Regions from separate parts of the Homo sapiens genome. Here all the other regions are linked to region 3. The links come from fine-mapping of genetic effects on gene expression. A gene starts in region 3. Each other region holds a variant in brackets. All regions are shown on one strand. Distances are from middle to middle.

Region 1 (5,237 bases), 150 kb after region 3:
CTGCTTCTGTTTAAAGGAAAACTCTCCGGGTTTTGAACTAAACTCAGCATTAGCAAGGCTGTATCCTTTTCCCAAGGAAAAAAGTAAAGTGTCTACATATTCCAAAAGAATGTCTCCAGGTTTTAGCATCCTAGAAAGCCTGATTTCCCCCACTATATTAGAAAGAAGCAAATGAGAGTTTAAAGAAACAAACTGTTATGTTTCACAGTGAATTTAATTAAAAATGTATGTAGATATAGTTGATTTTTCATAATACAAAAGGACCTAGGACCTATGTCAAAGTACTCTCCAAACTGATCATAAATGTTTTAAATATTTTTTGCTTTAAACAGCAAGTTCATCTGTGATACATAATGGAGAATTCCAGAAAAGATCATTTTAGAGTTTGGTTTCAAATTTTATTCCTTTTTTCCAAAACGATATTTGTATATAGAAATTCGAAAAATTAAATGATATCCTCTACACTGTAATACACACAGATGTCTCTGGGTGAACTGCTGACTACATAAATAGATCTTTACCATAGTAACCTAAAGACCATACTGTTCAAGACCAGAGATTTACAGGTTCAGAAACTCAGACTCATCAGTGCTCAAGGGCCAGTCTTTCACTGACTTGGGACTGCAGGTTTTTATCAACAATGTGCATGACATATTTTAAAAAGAAAAATCCATTTGTTAATGTACAATGAAAGTTATAACCATCAGGTGGATTAGGTAATATCTAAGTTTATTATTTAACCTGTTGGCAAATTACATGGGAAATTACAGTGATCAATAGTTTGCCTATTAGTCGTAGAAATAAAAAAAAGGGGGAGAATTTTGCAACTTGAATGTAGAATGGCCTCAGACTCTGAGAATGTTAAATTCCCTTCCTGATTGAGGACCAAACTGCAAAAAGGCCAGATATTCCTTATGGTGTTATAGCTTACCAGATCACCACGCAATTGCCTAGGTTGCTACAACCAGCGTTGTAGCTGAGACGCTCCTTGTTCTGTGCCAATGACTGGTGAACTCCCTTCTGAGGACCATCTTCTTTTAGGTAGAATTACAGTGATATTGCTAACAAGTCGTCTGTGAGATACTCTGAAGGTGCCTTTGCATGTTTCCTCACTGTCCCACATATGCCTCTTGTTTTCATATTACTGAAATAGATCTTGCCATAGCCCCTAGATTGAGAAACAAGCATAAGATTAACTTGAGTTTAACCTAAGTCTACTGCTATTTGGCCTCAGAGGAGTTGCTAAAAAAGATAAGGACTGGTTGAAGACAGGTAATAAGCAAAAGATGAAGAAGGAACAAGTTGAAATCCAAGCTATGTAATCAACAGTTATATAATTGAGAGTTCTTTAGATACATGATTACTTGTTAGCCTTAGTGCTTGCAGAGAACAGTTTTCAATAACTTCTCTAATTTTAAGCTGATACCAGTGTCTCTTAGTTCACTGATTCCACTAATTTCTGAAGCATCTTTTAAGCTACCTCTTGATTTCCTCATCACAAAATTTAGTCTCTCTTCCCATGAGATCAAAGTTAGAAAAAGTGCCTATATTTTTACCATTTCAAAATAAAATGTAGACTTAAAAATTTCAACCAACTTTGAGAAACTATAGACAGAGTTTTTATATAGAAGGACCCCAAAACAACAAATTTTGTCCAGAATCGCTCAGTACAAATGCTAACCTGAAACTTGTATTTCAGAACTTCCATTCTCCTAAAGGGCAGAGTCACTGGACCAGTATGTGTTATATGTATTTTGGCTCTTTACATTTACTCTTTAGTTCCATCTTAATACACACAAGCACGCGTGCACACAAACACACACACGCATTCACACATTTATTTAAAACCTTAACATTTTAATAGTTACTTCTAAAGTGTGTCAACTTAATCTCACTCTGAGTGTGACAGGGAGTTAGTGCCTATGTGAATATATTTTTTCATCACATTCAGTTTTTGCTATTGAGGGAAAATTATCTTTCCATCTCATGTAGTGCAAACTTAAATCTTAAATCATTTAAATATGTTTTATTTTTCCAAAGCTTACATTTCTGCATTACAAATGGTGTCCATTGATTGGAAGTCAAGCTCACTAGCATTCACTGCATGAGCTATGCATGAGCATGTTAAGGCCACCATGTTCTGCCTGGCAAAATAAATACTTTATCATTTTCCTAAGTGTTGGATAATTCCCTGACCTTTAAAAAGGACTTTGGAGAACAGATTTTCCTCTAAATAATGTATTAATAGACCAACAAGTAATTTTTTTAAAATAATAATCATGAAGTTTAACATACTTCAAGCTATCTTTACAACTCTGAAGGTTATCTTTGGGTTTCTGTTATTCCCATAGAATAAGTTGAACCAAAATTTGTAATTGTCTTGCTGTCACTCAAAAGAAATAGATATGTTTTGTAATTGTTTGCATTGAGGAATCAGAGGAAGGATTTGCAGATCAAATCTGACTAATTTTCAAATTTTGTCAAATTCCTTATCTTGTTCTTTTAATCATAGGCTTATGGTATGATTTGGCCCTGCATGAGAGTTCACTGATATAACTCAAACACATGTTTTTACTAAAAGTGGAATTAGTCCTGTATCTTCATATGAAAAGACATTATAAACAGCAAAACTCACTTTACTACAGTTTTATTTTTATCATTCCCTAGCAATATATTACTGATCATTGCTAGCATGTAAAATCTTTTCATATTTTTGCTTAAGAGCCATATATAAGTAATTTATTAAATAAAACTTTTCTGATTTGATTCTTCCACTTTGTTTCAAATAGTACCTACTGACAGAGGTTTCCCATACTTTTAACACACATTGTTAGAAGTATTTTATTATATACACTTTTAATGGCTCTATTAACCTTAAAAAAAAAAGTTAATGATATCCACCTAAATCACTATCCCTGCTAGGAAGAGAATCTTGGTGGTATAAAAATGTAGGCCTCTTAATCTGCATTGTGGATGTGTGATGAAAAACATAGCTTATCATTCTTTTTTTTCTTTTTTAGCCTTGGAATGGATGGCTTTGGCCAACCAGTTGGCATTCTTGGACGCCCTGCCACAGCATATGGATTCCGCCCTGATGAACCTTACTACTATGGCTATGGATCTTGATAAAGTATCTGTTTCCATGTGTAATCTCAGCTTAGAAGAAATCTGTGTGGGTTGGGTTAATTTTGGATCTTTGCCTAATAATGCATGTTGATGTTATTGTGGGTCTGTGTTTGTTTTTATTTTTATATG[T/C]TGTTAGCTGCAGATTAACCCCAGCCCCTCTGTCTTCTGTTAAGTACAGTTGATACTGACATTGTTCACTCATCAAACCACATCTTGATGCTAAGTAACATTTCCCATGAGCCACAAAACTGAATGCTGAAAAGCTACTAGACTGGAAAACAAACACTGCATTATGTATGTTAAGTGACTAATTTAATTTCAATTAAAAAGCGTAAAGTGAAAATGAATAAGTGAAAGTCATGTGTTTATATTTCACACATTTCACTACGAATTACATGTTAATATAGGGTGCGCGTGAATTTTATTTTTTCTCCTTTTTTTCTGCTTGTAAACTCTTGAGTAATTTGTATAATATATGCTACCTTTAAAATTTATAAAAAGAACATCACCTTCATATTCCATGCCATGTGCCTGAAAGTTTCCTTCCCAAAGTTTATTAACTATGAGTTTTCAATTAATAATGGAACATATGTCATAAGTTATTTATGGTTATAGTCTCTTTGGTGGTTTTAATTCATATCTTCCTAGTTGTAATATAGAAATCCTAGGACAAGTAGTATACAAGACAAGCAGTGATACAAGATTAGCATTTGGCTTTTAACTTTTATTCTTCATAAATTTAGTATCTAAAGCATGGGAAAGCTAATTAAAAGTCGCATTAAGGAAAACTAAGGAACAGAATATTTCACTCACTTGGGTACCCAGTTCCCAATTGTTCACTTGTTCTTATAACGTACATTTAGATAGCAAGAAATGGAGAGACATTATATAATTCATAATGGGTTTTGAAAATAGTTCAGTGTTTTCATATTAAAAAAATGTTCAATTCTACTTGAAAAGCTGAGCAAAGAAATAACCATAATAATAACTATAATCAGAGATAGTTCCATGATCACCTGCTATGGGAGAAAATATGAAGCTTCAAAGGGAATACATAGATCAAAGATAAGACTTCTGTTCTTGAATTTAAAATCTCATTGATCTAACTACACTATTTATGTGGCTTAAATTACATTTTAAGCAGAAGATAACATTTGGAAAAGGCCTTTGAAATAACTCATTCCATCTACTTATTTAAGAAACCAATCACATAAAAAATTTAAATGTAATCAACAGATATTTTCCTGACTACCTGCTATGTGTAAGGAAGTATATGATGCCCCTTAGGAGATGTAAATCTGAGGTATGTTTATGCCTTTGATCTTTCTGAAAACATACATTTATTTGTCTTAGTTTCTATTTTAACCATAAAATATTAAAGCTGGAAAAGGCCTTAGAAGCAACCCTGTCCAACTCTAATTTTTGCAGTCAAAAAAACTGGCCAGGAGAGGTTAAGTGACTTAGTCAATGACATAGGCTGTCTCTTTGCTTCCTATTCAGCAATCTCAATACTAAATAGCTTGTTTTATTATTTATCATGTGTACAAAGTATAAATACACATAAGTGACATTAATAGGAAAATGATGCAAACATCCTATAGCTTTAACTTCCCTCATGTTGTTATAAACTGCATTAGGAAGAACACCCGCCAAAATTGATAAAATTCCCAGGGCTATGCTCGCTCAATTTTACGTGCACATGCTCACTCTCCCTAATTTTGTTTTCATTAGTATAGGACTTAACAAATTTAGAAATTGTAATCTTTCCACTCAGGCTTGAACTGGCTTACCATTGCATTATTTATGAAGGAATATTTTTCTAAAGAGATTAATAAGGAAGACTATGTAAAAAAAGATTTGTTTTAAGACAAGGTCTTGCTCTGTCACCCAGGCTGGAGTGCAGTGGCACAGTCATCATTCACTGCAGCCTCAGCCTCCCAGGCTCAAGTGATCCTCCCACCTCAGCCTCCCAAGTAGCTGAGACTACAAGCACGTGCCACTGCACTCGGCTAATTTTTTGTTTACTTTTTGCAGAGATGAGGTCTCACTATGTTGCCCAGGCTGGTCTCGAACTCCTAAGCTCAAGTAATCCACCTGCCTCAGCCTCCAAA
Region 2 (5,237 bases), 74 kb after region 3:
ATAGATAGCTCTTATTATTTTGAATACGTCCCATCAAGCTCGAACTGGGTGGAGCCCACCACAGCTGAAGGAAGCCTGCCTGCCTGCCTCTGTAGGCTCCACCTCTGGGGGCAGGGCACAAACAGACAAAAGGCAGCAGTAACCTCTGCAGACTTAGATGTCCCTGTCTGACAGCTTTGAAGAGATTAGTGGTTCTCCCAGCAGGCAGCTTGAGATCTGAGAACGGGCAGACTGCCTCCTCAAGTGCGTCCCTGACTCCCGAGTAGCCTAACTGGGAGGCACCCCCCAGTAGGTGTGGACTGACACCTCACACGGCCGGGAGGATTTGTTATAGAGGGTTTGTTTTAAACATTGAAATAGCACCTTAATTTCACTTATATTTTATAGCTTTCTCATGTATCAGTGAATTCAGGGCAGGAATCTTCTAATACAGTGATACTCAAAGTATGGTCCACAGAGCAATACTTGGTCTATTTGTTATTGGTTGTTACTGGTCTATAATGAGTAAGTCCAAAAATTGAAAGTAAGCACTTAGACACATATAGCAGTTTGACTGAATAAGATTTTGTCTGCTGAATGTAATAATAAAAATTTGCATCTTCTATTTTATATATCTTTTGTTTAATTTCATTTTTATTGTACTTTAATAAAAATGTTAGGGGAAGAAATGAAAAAACCTGGCTCACCACCACAGATAGTTTGAGAACCACTGTTCAAATAGATGAAATGGCAGTCTTAATCCTAGGTTAGTAAACTGTTCTTTAAACGTATTCAGAAGTCCATATAATTAGAACCCAGTATCACAGAATTACCCTGCCTTGGGATACCTCCTTAGCTCATTTATAAGCAGAGATGAGAATGTTTCTCATCCTTAAAAACTGAGGAATTAGTAGTGTTACCAATAGATGTTGCTAAGCTTTTCTATACTTAGAATAAGTGAATATTCATCTGGTGTACTTGTGTTAAGCATTTTCATATATAATTTATAAACCTATGCAAATTAACTAAAAAAGTTAATAGCTCTGACATATTTCTTAAAGTTATCTTTTAATCAGCAGAGCCACCCTGGTCAGTGATAAACGTATGGCACTGAAAGCTACTAGTATGAAGGTTTGAGCCATCATTTAAATTTTGATTCTGAGTTCTACCTGTGTAAATTTTGATTCTTCTAACTTTAAGAGTTTTAAATCTGTGCCAGTTTGCATGGCTGGCTTGTGCAGAAACTAATGTTATTGGTTATGACAGGAAAATTGGGACTCCTAAATTCAATAGCACATCAGGCCTGTTTCACAATTTTATGTGAATAATTTCAAAAGGTCTAATTTTTAGTCAGTAATGTTAGACCATATTGTCTTCATTGGAAGACAAATTAGAGTTTCTAAGGTGTTCCATATTGATATAAATGTTTCTCTATTCTGTGAGTAGACCCAAAATTGATTTTGAGAGTAAGAATGGCACCTGATTCATTTTTGTCTAGATTACATTTAGGTAATATGGGTTTGGGGCATTTTACAGAGCTGTAGAACAGTTTCATCAGCATGTAAGGAGTCAGACCAGGTCAAGAGTTAAGTGACAAATGTTTGATTTCTTCCGGTTTAGACAAGTCTGATTTCCCTTATTTTTGGAGATCACCAGAGCAGATACTGTTGAACTCTAAACTTTGATCATATAAAAACTAAGGGTTATTTCCTTTGACCATTCTGTCATATGTCTTTAAAAGAAAATTGACAAAGTTAACTTCTGAACACCTTTGAAATTTTTCCACAATTTTAAATTCACTTATTTACTTTATATTAATATGATCTAACTTTTAATTTACCAACAGCATCATAAAGAATGAAAAAATGAAACTTTATTTTGTGAAGAAAGCAACATTTTGCCTTTTCTGACTTATTAAAAACTGTTTGGAAATGGTCAGAATAATGATTTCCAAGCAAAATGAAGTGTTTTCCATTTTTTTGAAACTAGGTTGCCTTTATGATAGTTTCTTTAAGAAACTTAAAGTAGATTTTTTAAAAAATAAATTGGTTTGGTTGTTCTGTTTATTACCGAACTGTTATGGAATTTCACACATCTGTTTCAGAACACAACTCCTCATAGACTACTACACTGTTTCTCAATTTTAATAGGCCTCATTTATCCTATAAATAAACCTACATTTTCTTACCTGATCAAGTGAGCAAACAATAGGGGTCAGAAGTGGCAAACAGTTTAACAGAAAGCACATGTCTCGC[C/T]GTCAGGGTGAGGTAGACTCATATCAAGATTGCTTGAAGTTATTAATGGCAGTAAAATTTATGCTTCCTCCTGTTTTCCCAATTAAATCAAGAAGCCTTTTTTCTTAAGATTCTTCTGTCACCAGCTGGTTCCAATACTGTGTGTGTGTGAATATTGCCTAGGGTGTCTCCATTTCTAGATGGTAAAATTTGGCCAAAGCATATTAAGTCAATGATTTGGACATACAGGCTAGAAAGCAGTCATTGTTAAGGGCTTTATTTTGATCCTTATCATTTGTACCACAAGTATGTGTATTCTTTAGATCTTATTGCAAATAACTTGTATTCTATGGATGTAATAAAAATTCTACAGAAGACATAATAAAATAATTGAAGATATGATGAAAAATAAGCTGTGTGGCAAAATGTACAGTTGTACATACTAAAACAAATGAAAATCTATCAAAAATGTTCTATATAAGAGTACTCATTTAGTGACTATCTCTAAAAACAATGTTTAGCTTACTGGTAGATCTGCAATGTTAGTTTCTCATACTTTTAAAATTAAATAATTGGACATAAAAAATTACTTATCCGTGAACCACTGTACCTCAGAAACTATTGTTGTACTTAATGTTTTCATACTGATCTTTGTAACCTATAAATTATGTTATTTTTTCCCCTTAACTGTTGGTTAACAACTGTTGGTTTTTATCTGTTCATCTCAAATCTCGACTATAGACAAATATATTATAAAAGAGATCATCCAATGTAGTTACAGTCTTAAACATTGGTCTGTGCAAATTCAAGTTTAAACTAAGGCTATCTGTTTATATTGAGTATATATCTGCAGTATATGCTCTAATAAGTTAAGCATAAAATTATATGGAAACATGTATCAAAGATGTTCTGATATAGCTTCAATGTGTTTTTAGTCTATGTCAGTGTGTAGTTAACATGTTCAATAATTGTTGCAATTATCTTTTAAGTGGTGGTTTTCACCTGTGGCATTTTCACTGTATTGATAGAACTTTAGGGGCTCTCACTCCGTAATAAATGTAAAGACACCTGCAAATTTTGAAGCACGTTGTATTCATATAGACTTTCCAGGGGTAATATATCACCTTAATGCTATTCTATCCTAATATAGGTGTGCTTATATTCCCACTTCTATTATCTTTTCATGGAGCCTCTGTGACATCAAAGGGAGTGTTCCACTTTGAAAGAAGAAGACATAGAGTATAGAAGGGAATGAGAATCTGGCTAATAATGTGGCCCATAACTTGTGTTCTCACTTTGTTTTCACAGTGTTGGGCTGGATCTACTGCAGAAGCGGAAATTTGGCTTTTGAGTTCTCATGTTCAGAACTCGTATTTCTGCTTGACTGAACTGTGAATGAAAAATCCCAAGTGTCTTACAAAATTAGTAATTGAATGGTGTTTTTACTGATCACTTCACAGATGAAAAAACTGAAGACATTTTAAAATTCAAAACCCATCAGCATGTGTTTTGCCCTTTAATTGGCAGAAAATCGATTGTGAGAGCAGCCCAGAGAGCTGATAGTTTTTTCTCCTTCAGCTGCTCCAGCTGAACTACAGCTGTAAATTTCTTTAAAAAGAAAAAAAGATGCAATGTTTCTTATAAACTCTTGAATGTACTTTATAAGTGCAATAATTCCCACAAAATCAGTTACTGGAGTTAATGACCAGTTTGTTAAGGCATTAACTGCCCTCAGCTGGGAATGACCAATTTGAGGGGAATGGCTGCACAAATGCTAAGATAATTCAGTAACACTTTCAAATAATGATCCAGCTAATTAACGGTGAATTCCTGTGGAAATCCTATCGAAGTACTTATGACCTCTGCGTTTAATAGCCAGTGAGTTCATCATGATTCATGTTTATTACCATAAATACCAAAGGAATCATAATGACTAGGCCATTTTTTTTCTACCCTGCCCTTATTACTTGAACAGATTTAACTAATCCACCTCCAGTCATTAAGAACCTAGTTCTCAAGATACTCAGTCTTTTCACTGCCCTTGCTTAAAATTCACAGTCTTTGGTGCTGTGCCAGCATGCTGACTGTTGGCAGCCTGTTTTTACTTGGGATGCCGTTAGGGAATAATTGATGTCTTTATGTCTTAAAGGAGCCTTTTTGAAATGTCTACCATTTGTAGGATGTAGAGGAATCATAGCCGGTTAGCTACAGTTTATGGCTTCTAGTCATGAATTCTTACGAGAAAATCATACCCTCCAATCCTCATTTCTTGTAGGAATTCACTTAGGGTATATAAGATTTTTTTTCTTGAGCTTTATTTTGTAAGAACTCAGATGTTCTTTCTTTCAGTGAATGAAGAAGACTATTAGTTTACAATAAAAGATAAGCTCTTTATTTTACTTAGACCATTTAATCTCTCTAATAGCTGTTTATTGCTATGTGATCTGCAAATTAGCCTTTAAGTCGTAATATTAAATGTTGGCTGCCAAAGAGTCTTTACTTTCTTTGCAGACCTGTGTTTGAATAGATGAATTCAGGTTATTGCCAGACATCTTCCCCCTCCACGTACTCAATTTTGTTCTAAAATGCCTTGTCTTTTTGTTGTAGGTTCCAGATATCTGCTAGATGCCGTGAAGTTATAGGCTGCATTTTTATTAAGTATTGATTATTTATGTAATCATTTATGATTCAGTGAATAAGATACATATGGTTTATATACTGTAGTCTTCATATATTGAAATTATTTAGAAGAGAAAGAAAATATGTGATTTGTAACTGTAGGATAGAACTAGAATCATCAAGATAATATGTGGGTAACAAGACCGTTTATAAAATATTTACGTATTTTTCTGAATAAAAGGCCAAATGCCAGTTTATATCTTTTTCATTCCCTAATTACAAAAAGGGGGGGAATTAAATTTATAGTTATTTGTAAATCAGTTGTTTAAATTCTAGGGGAAACTTTACTCACATAAAATCCAGAAGACACATTAGCAACTTGGGTTAGAATATTATAGTCCCTTA
Region 3 (5,237 bases):
TGCCAAAAGCTAGAAGCAACTCAAATGTCTTTCAACTGGTGAATGAATAAACTATGGTACATTCATACCATGGAATAGTACTTAACAATAAAAAAAAAAACAGGACCGAAAAACAAAATGGATTGTCTTCAAATGCATTGTGCTAAATGAAAGAAACCAGATTCAAAAGGCTACAGCGCCTATCATTACATTCAGATGACGTTCTGGAAAAGGCAAAATTATAGGAACAGAAAACAGATCAGTATTTACCAGAGCCTGGGGTTGTGGGGATAAGGCGACTCCAAAGGATACAAAGGAATTTTAGAGGATGACAGAACTGCTCTATGATTGTGCAGGTAATTATATGACTTAAGAGTTTTTCAAAACTTAGAGAACTGTAGGCCAAGAAGAATGCATGTTATTGTTTTTAAATTATAGTGCAATTTAAATAAAGCATCATGCTGTATTTAATCTGCCACAATTTTTCACTCAGTATCATGTTTCTAATATTCATCCATGTCATATGTAAAGTTCTAGTTCATCAACTTTCTCTGCTGCATATTATTGTATTGTGTGAATATTTCAAATGTATTCATTCATTCTCCTGCAAAAGTATTTTGTTATTGTCTTTCTGTTTTTCATTTTCTACTAAGCTCAATACTTCTCCAATGATTTTGGAACAATTTTATGAAGTATAGAACTAGGAGTAGAATTGCTGAGATTTAGAGTATGTGCCTATTCAACTTTACAAAATAATCTGACATTTTATTCCCTTGTTTGGCCCCGCCCACATCCTGCTGATTGGTGTTACAGAGTGCTGATTGGTGCATTTACAATCCTTTAGCTAGACACAGGGCGTTGATTGGTGCATTTTTACAGAGTGCTGATTGGTGCGTTTACAATCCTTTAGCTAGACACAGAGCACTAATTGGTGCGTTTGTACAGAGTGCTGATTGGTGCATTTACAATCCTTTAGCTAGACCCAGAGTGCTGATTGGTGCATTTACAACCCTCTAGCTAGACAGAAAAGTTCTCCAAGTCCCCACCCGACCCAGAAGTCCAGCTGGGTTCACCTCTCACTAATGATGCTGTTTGCTTGTCTGTTTAAAATGCTGACAGCTAGATCTCCTCATTGTAAAGTAACATTTCTTTTCCTTTAGAATTATAAAGAAATATGCGGGGTAAAACTTTGCCTCACTTTAAATTATTTTAAAGTAAATTAATAGGGCTTATTTGAATCCATTGTTTATTGGTGCTTGCAAAATAGTAACTATCATTATTTTTCTCCATTCCTACCAGGTATTTTCTGTTAAGAAGAGCTTTTCCTTGTTAAAAGGAGGTGAAATCTGGTTTATTTCCAAAAGCATTAGATTAAATCCTTCTTTCTTTTAATTACCAGCTTTCAGAGTAAAGATCTGATGCAGTAGTTGCCTCCAGTGGAAGTGGGGTTCTTTTTTCCCTGTTTTTCTATGTTGTTGAGTATCATTATGGATTTCTTTTTTTTATTTATTTAATGTCTTAAATCAATCCCAGTAATTCCATTTGATTCCCAAATTGCCTCAAATTCACCAGTGTCCTTTTTACATAATCTTATCTTCTTAGTCTCTGACTATGTCCTTACTGTCAAGCATAAAATGTTCCAGGCTCATCTTGTACTTTTCCTGCCACAGACAGACAGTTTATCTAGTTCAGTCCCAGTTTCAGCTATCTATTTATTGCTCTGGTTTCCAGCTCTCTCTTTCTTTCTGGCCTCTGGGCATTTTCTTTAGGTTTTTTTGTTGTTGTTGTTGCTATTGTTTTTTCAAGCTCAGGTTTGCATTTTTTCAACACCAAAATTTTTATTCAGTGACAACTATGGGCTGAATGCAAAAGTGAACGAAATAAGTTCTCTGAGCTCAAGGAGCTAACTTACATTCCAAAAATCCTTGTTATATTATCTATGCATTTTAATGTATATTTTGGTCTTCCAATTTTACGTATTGTGAAGATTTTAAAGTAATCTAGCCTGCTATATTACCATTAAAGGTGTTATAAATGATAATTTGTAAAATTTTACATTAGTTTGCAGAATTAATATTTAGAAAAACAAAAAATAGGAAGTCCAATGAGGAAGGAATTGCAGTACTCTAGGTATAAAGTGATTAGACTATTGGTAGAAGTAAGAATGTAGAAAAAAACTGGACTACCTGAATATCTTGAAGGAAGAAAAGATAGAATTTTGTAACACTTTAGTAAGAGGGCATGATACAGAGGAAGGAGTCAAAATTAGCTGCAAATTTTCTTCCCTTTCAGAATGAAAGAATGACTATAACATCTACAGAAATAGTGTAGCTGGTGTGAATGGGTGGGAAGATAAAAATATATTTTGTTGGGTAAGGACTGTATTTCTATATTTAATATACCATGCAGTGCCTTAACATGGTGTTTTACACATAACGGATAATCAATAATTGCATCAATGTACTACATTTGAAAAAAGCAGCAGAGCAACTACGTGCACGTCTCAAAGCAACTGGGAAAACAGGACTAGAAGACAGTGAATAAGTGACAAGATTATAGGTGAGCAGGGGGAGTAGAGGTGCTTTCTTTGCATCCCTAGAGCCTGGTTTGGTGTTTGGCACACAGCCAGCCCTCAATTCACATTTACCAAATAAATGAACCTATATCATTTGCATAGACATAATAGCTGAACCCATGGGAATAGATCTTAAACCAGAGAACATGCAGTTAAAAAAGAACCCTTCTTTCCTATGCCCTGCACTGCTAACAATTGCCTGCCTCAGAAGAAGCAATTCTAAACATACCTTGAGTTCAGGATAATTGGTGGAGTTGGAATTTCAGGAACTGTTTTTTGTTGCTGTTGTTTGTTTGTTTGTTTGTTTGTTTTGGTTGGGGGAGGTGTATTCTAGATTTAAGACATCAAAGTGACAGACTTGCCGCCTTCAAAGTTATATCCATTTTGTACAACGGTCAGATTATCTCCATAAGTTAGAGCTTGTAAGTGCAATCAGGGCCATTCAGGCCCCCAAATAGAAACCTCCCTTATTAGCTGGACTGCTGTATAGCATTCGCTAACTAAAAGGTTATCGGATTCCCCTCTCTCCTTTCAAGCTGACCTGACAGCCCTTTCTATTCCCATCCTCAAGGGGGCGGTGACTACGGAGCCACTCCTTATACACGGACGCTCAAAACTGCACCAAAACTTCCCTGCTCGGCTCCCCGGTGCGTCAAACTCTGAGGCCACCGCCTCAGACTGAGCCTGCGCATACAAGAGGTGCAGAGCAAGCGCATGCGTCGTGACGGCCCGGCTTAGGCGACTCTGGGCGGGTCTGGGCCGCTCCAGTGTTTTGGGGCACAGAAGCTGTGGGAGGAGCTGGAGGCTTCACCGTGGTAACCACAGCGCCGCTGCTGCCCCGCCTTGCAGGCCTCAGGACTGTCATCGCCTCTGGGTGTGAGGGTACTTTGGCCACCGTCCCCGGAAATAACCGCGCCTGCCTCTCAAGATACCCCATCCTCTCCACGCCGCTGCCGCTGCCGCCATGCAAGGGGAGGACGCCAGATACCTCAAAAGGTGACGACTCCCCAAGGCTCTGTCCTACCCTCCTTGCCAGGGCCCTGAAGATGTTCTTGGGTTGGCTGTGAGATGTCACTGGGCAACGCTAGTTTAGCAGACGGGATGGGAAGCAGGGAGAGAAGTCACCGAAAGGAGAGGGAAAAGGTGAAGTGGAGAAAAAAGGAGAGCTCTGGGGGGGTTTCAAAGTCCTTTGACCTGACTCGGCGGAGCCCTGACAGCATTGAAAGATGGTTTCTTCGCTACATCACCTTATTCCAGGGGGAGAGGGAGGTAGGGCAAGGTAAACCGCGTCTTTTGTTTTTTTTTTCGCCTCTTCCCAGACTCTCCATTTTCCCATAATAGATAAATCCCATGAGAGCCTGGGAATAAAGTCTGGTGCATCCGCCCTCAGGCCTCAGTTTGGGGTTCATTGCCATGGGCTTTTGAAATGATGAAGGGGAAAGAAGTGGTGGATTCTACTTTTTGGAAGGCTGAATTGAGATGTTGATTTCCAGTCTCTTTCTGCTTTCCGCATCCATGTCATCCATTTGACTCCCATGTATACAACATAATTTTTGTAGGACATTTAGTAATTATTAAGAGGTTTGTTCAGAAGTTTGATGACAATAAAATAGGCCATAATTTCTTTTAAATATAGTATCAGTTACTCAAAAAAATTGTAGTCTGTTGGGATTATTTGGGTGCTGGCAAATACTCAGATCATTCCTGATTTGGAAAAAAAAAAAGATACCTCCCACTGAACCAAGAGTAAGCAGTGATCCAATAGAAAAAAATTTTAATTCAGTACTGATTCAGTAAATACCCTGGAAAAGTCGCATGTATTCCTTTGGGCACGGTTTCCTCATCTGAAAATGGGACAGGCGTTACCTTCTGAGAGATACAAGGACGAAAGATGAAATACTTTTAAAAAATGAAACATGAATGTAAGGTGGTGGTATTATTTCAAGTCATAATACACTTGCAGTGAATATTTTTATTCTGGCTTGGCTGAGCTCTCATCATCACAGAAAGATCTTCCAAGTGTTAGTAGACTCATAGAAGGGATTCAAACAATTGTATAATAAATAAATCAACTCTATTGTCCTGGCAAGACAGGCATATATTGACTGTCTTTTTTATTTTATGTAAATATATCTGAAACTGGCAAATAGCCAGACTTTGTCAGTAAAAATTTTTAAATGAATATATAAGCCTACATCAGTGTTTATTTCCTCACTGAATTTTACTTAACGTTGGTTTTTAAAATACCTTGGTTAAAAATTTTGTGACAGAAGAAAATAAATTGCCTTTTAACTTTAAATTCAAAATTGTTCTGGAACAAAGAGCCGCTGTTATACCATTAGCTGATTTTCATGTAATATATTTGTGTCAGAGGTAGTTTTTCTTAACATTATCGTACCAGTATGGACACTGAGGCATACTGTGACTTATAATTCTCAACCTATTGTTTGCTTTTAAATACATACTATCTAGAGTTCCAAAATTAAAACCAAGCCAGTCAATGTAATGTTTGAAGTAAAATGAGATTAGAGTCTGAAAAGGTTGAAAAATACATTTCTCAATTTCATCTAATTTTTACTATAAATAATAAAAAGTTTGAATTGTCTGTTTTCAGACTAGAAGCATACAGGAGACATGTATTTATACAGGCCTGATGGAAAACATTTGTGATGTCTGATAGAAC

Evidence for each region.
Region 1: its variant is fine-mapped to the expression of KIFAP3 in whole blood (TOPMed, PIP above 0.99).
Region 2: its variant is fine-mapped to the expression of KIFAP3 in whole blood (INTERVAL, PIP 0.93).

The regions. Positions count from the first base shown.
Region 1 is chr1:169,919,565-169,924,801 of GRCh38, reverse strand. It overlaps KIFAP3 (kinesin associated protein 3), which reads left to right. Exons shown (of 20, transcript NM_014970.4): 20 at 3,021-3,473. The coding sequence ends at 3,126. Among named protein-coding and RNA genes, the nearest start is that of SCYL3, 28 kb to the right of the region's middle. The variant T/C (reference allele first, on the strand shown) is at 3,256.
Region 2 is chr1:169,998,495-170,003,731 of GRCh38, reverse strand. The region is part of intron 10 of KIFAP3 (kinesin associated protein 3); the gene reads left to right. Among named protein-coding and RNA genes, the nearest start is that of KIFAP3, 74 kb to the left of the region's middle. RefSeq lists an enhancer at 1-520. The variant C/T (reference allele first, on the strand shown) is at 2,235.
Region 3 is chr1:170,072,749-170,077,985 of GRCh38, reverse strand. It overlaps KIFAP3 (kinesin associated protein 3), which reads left to right and starts at 3,291. Exons shown (of 20, transcript NM_014970.4): 1 at 3,291-3,550. The coding sequence starts at 3,519. RefSeq lists enhancers at 3,063-3,362, 3,423-3,482.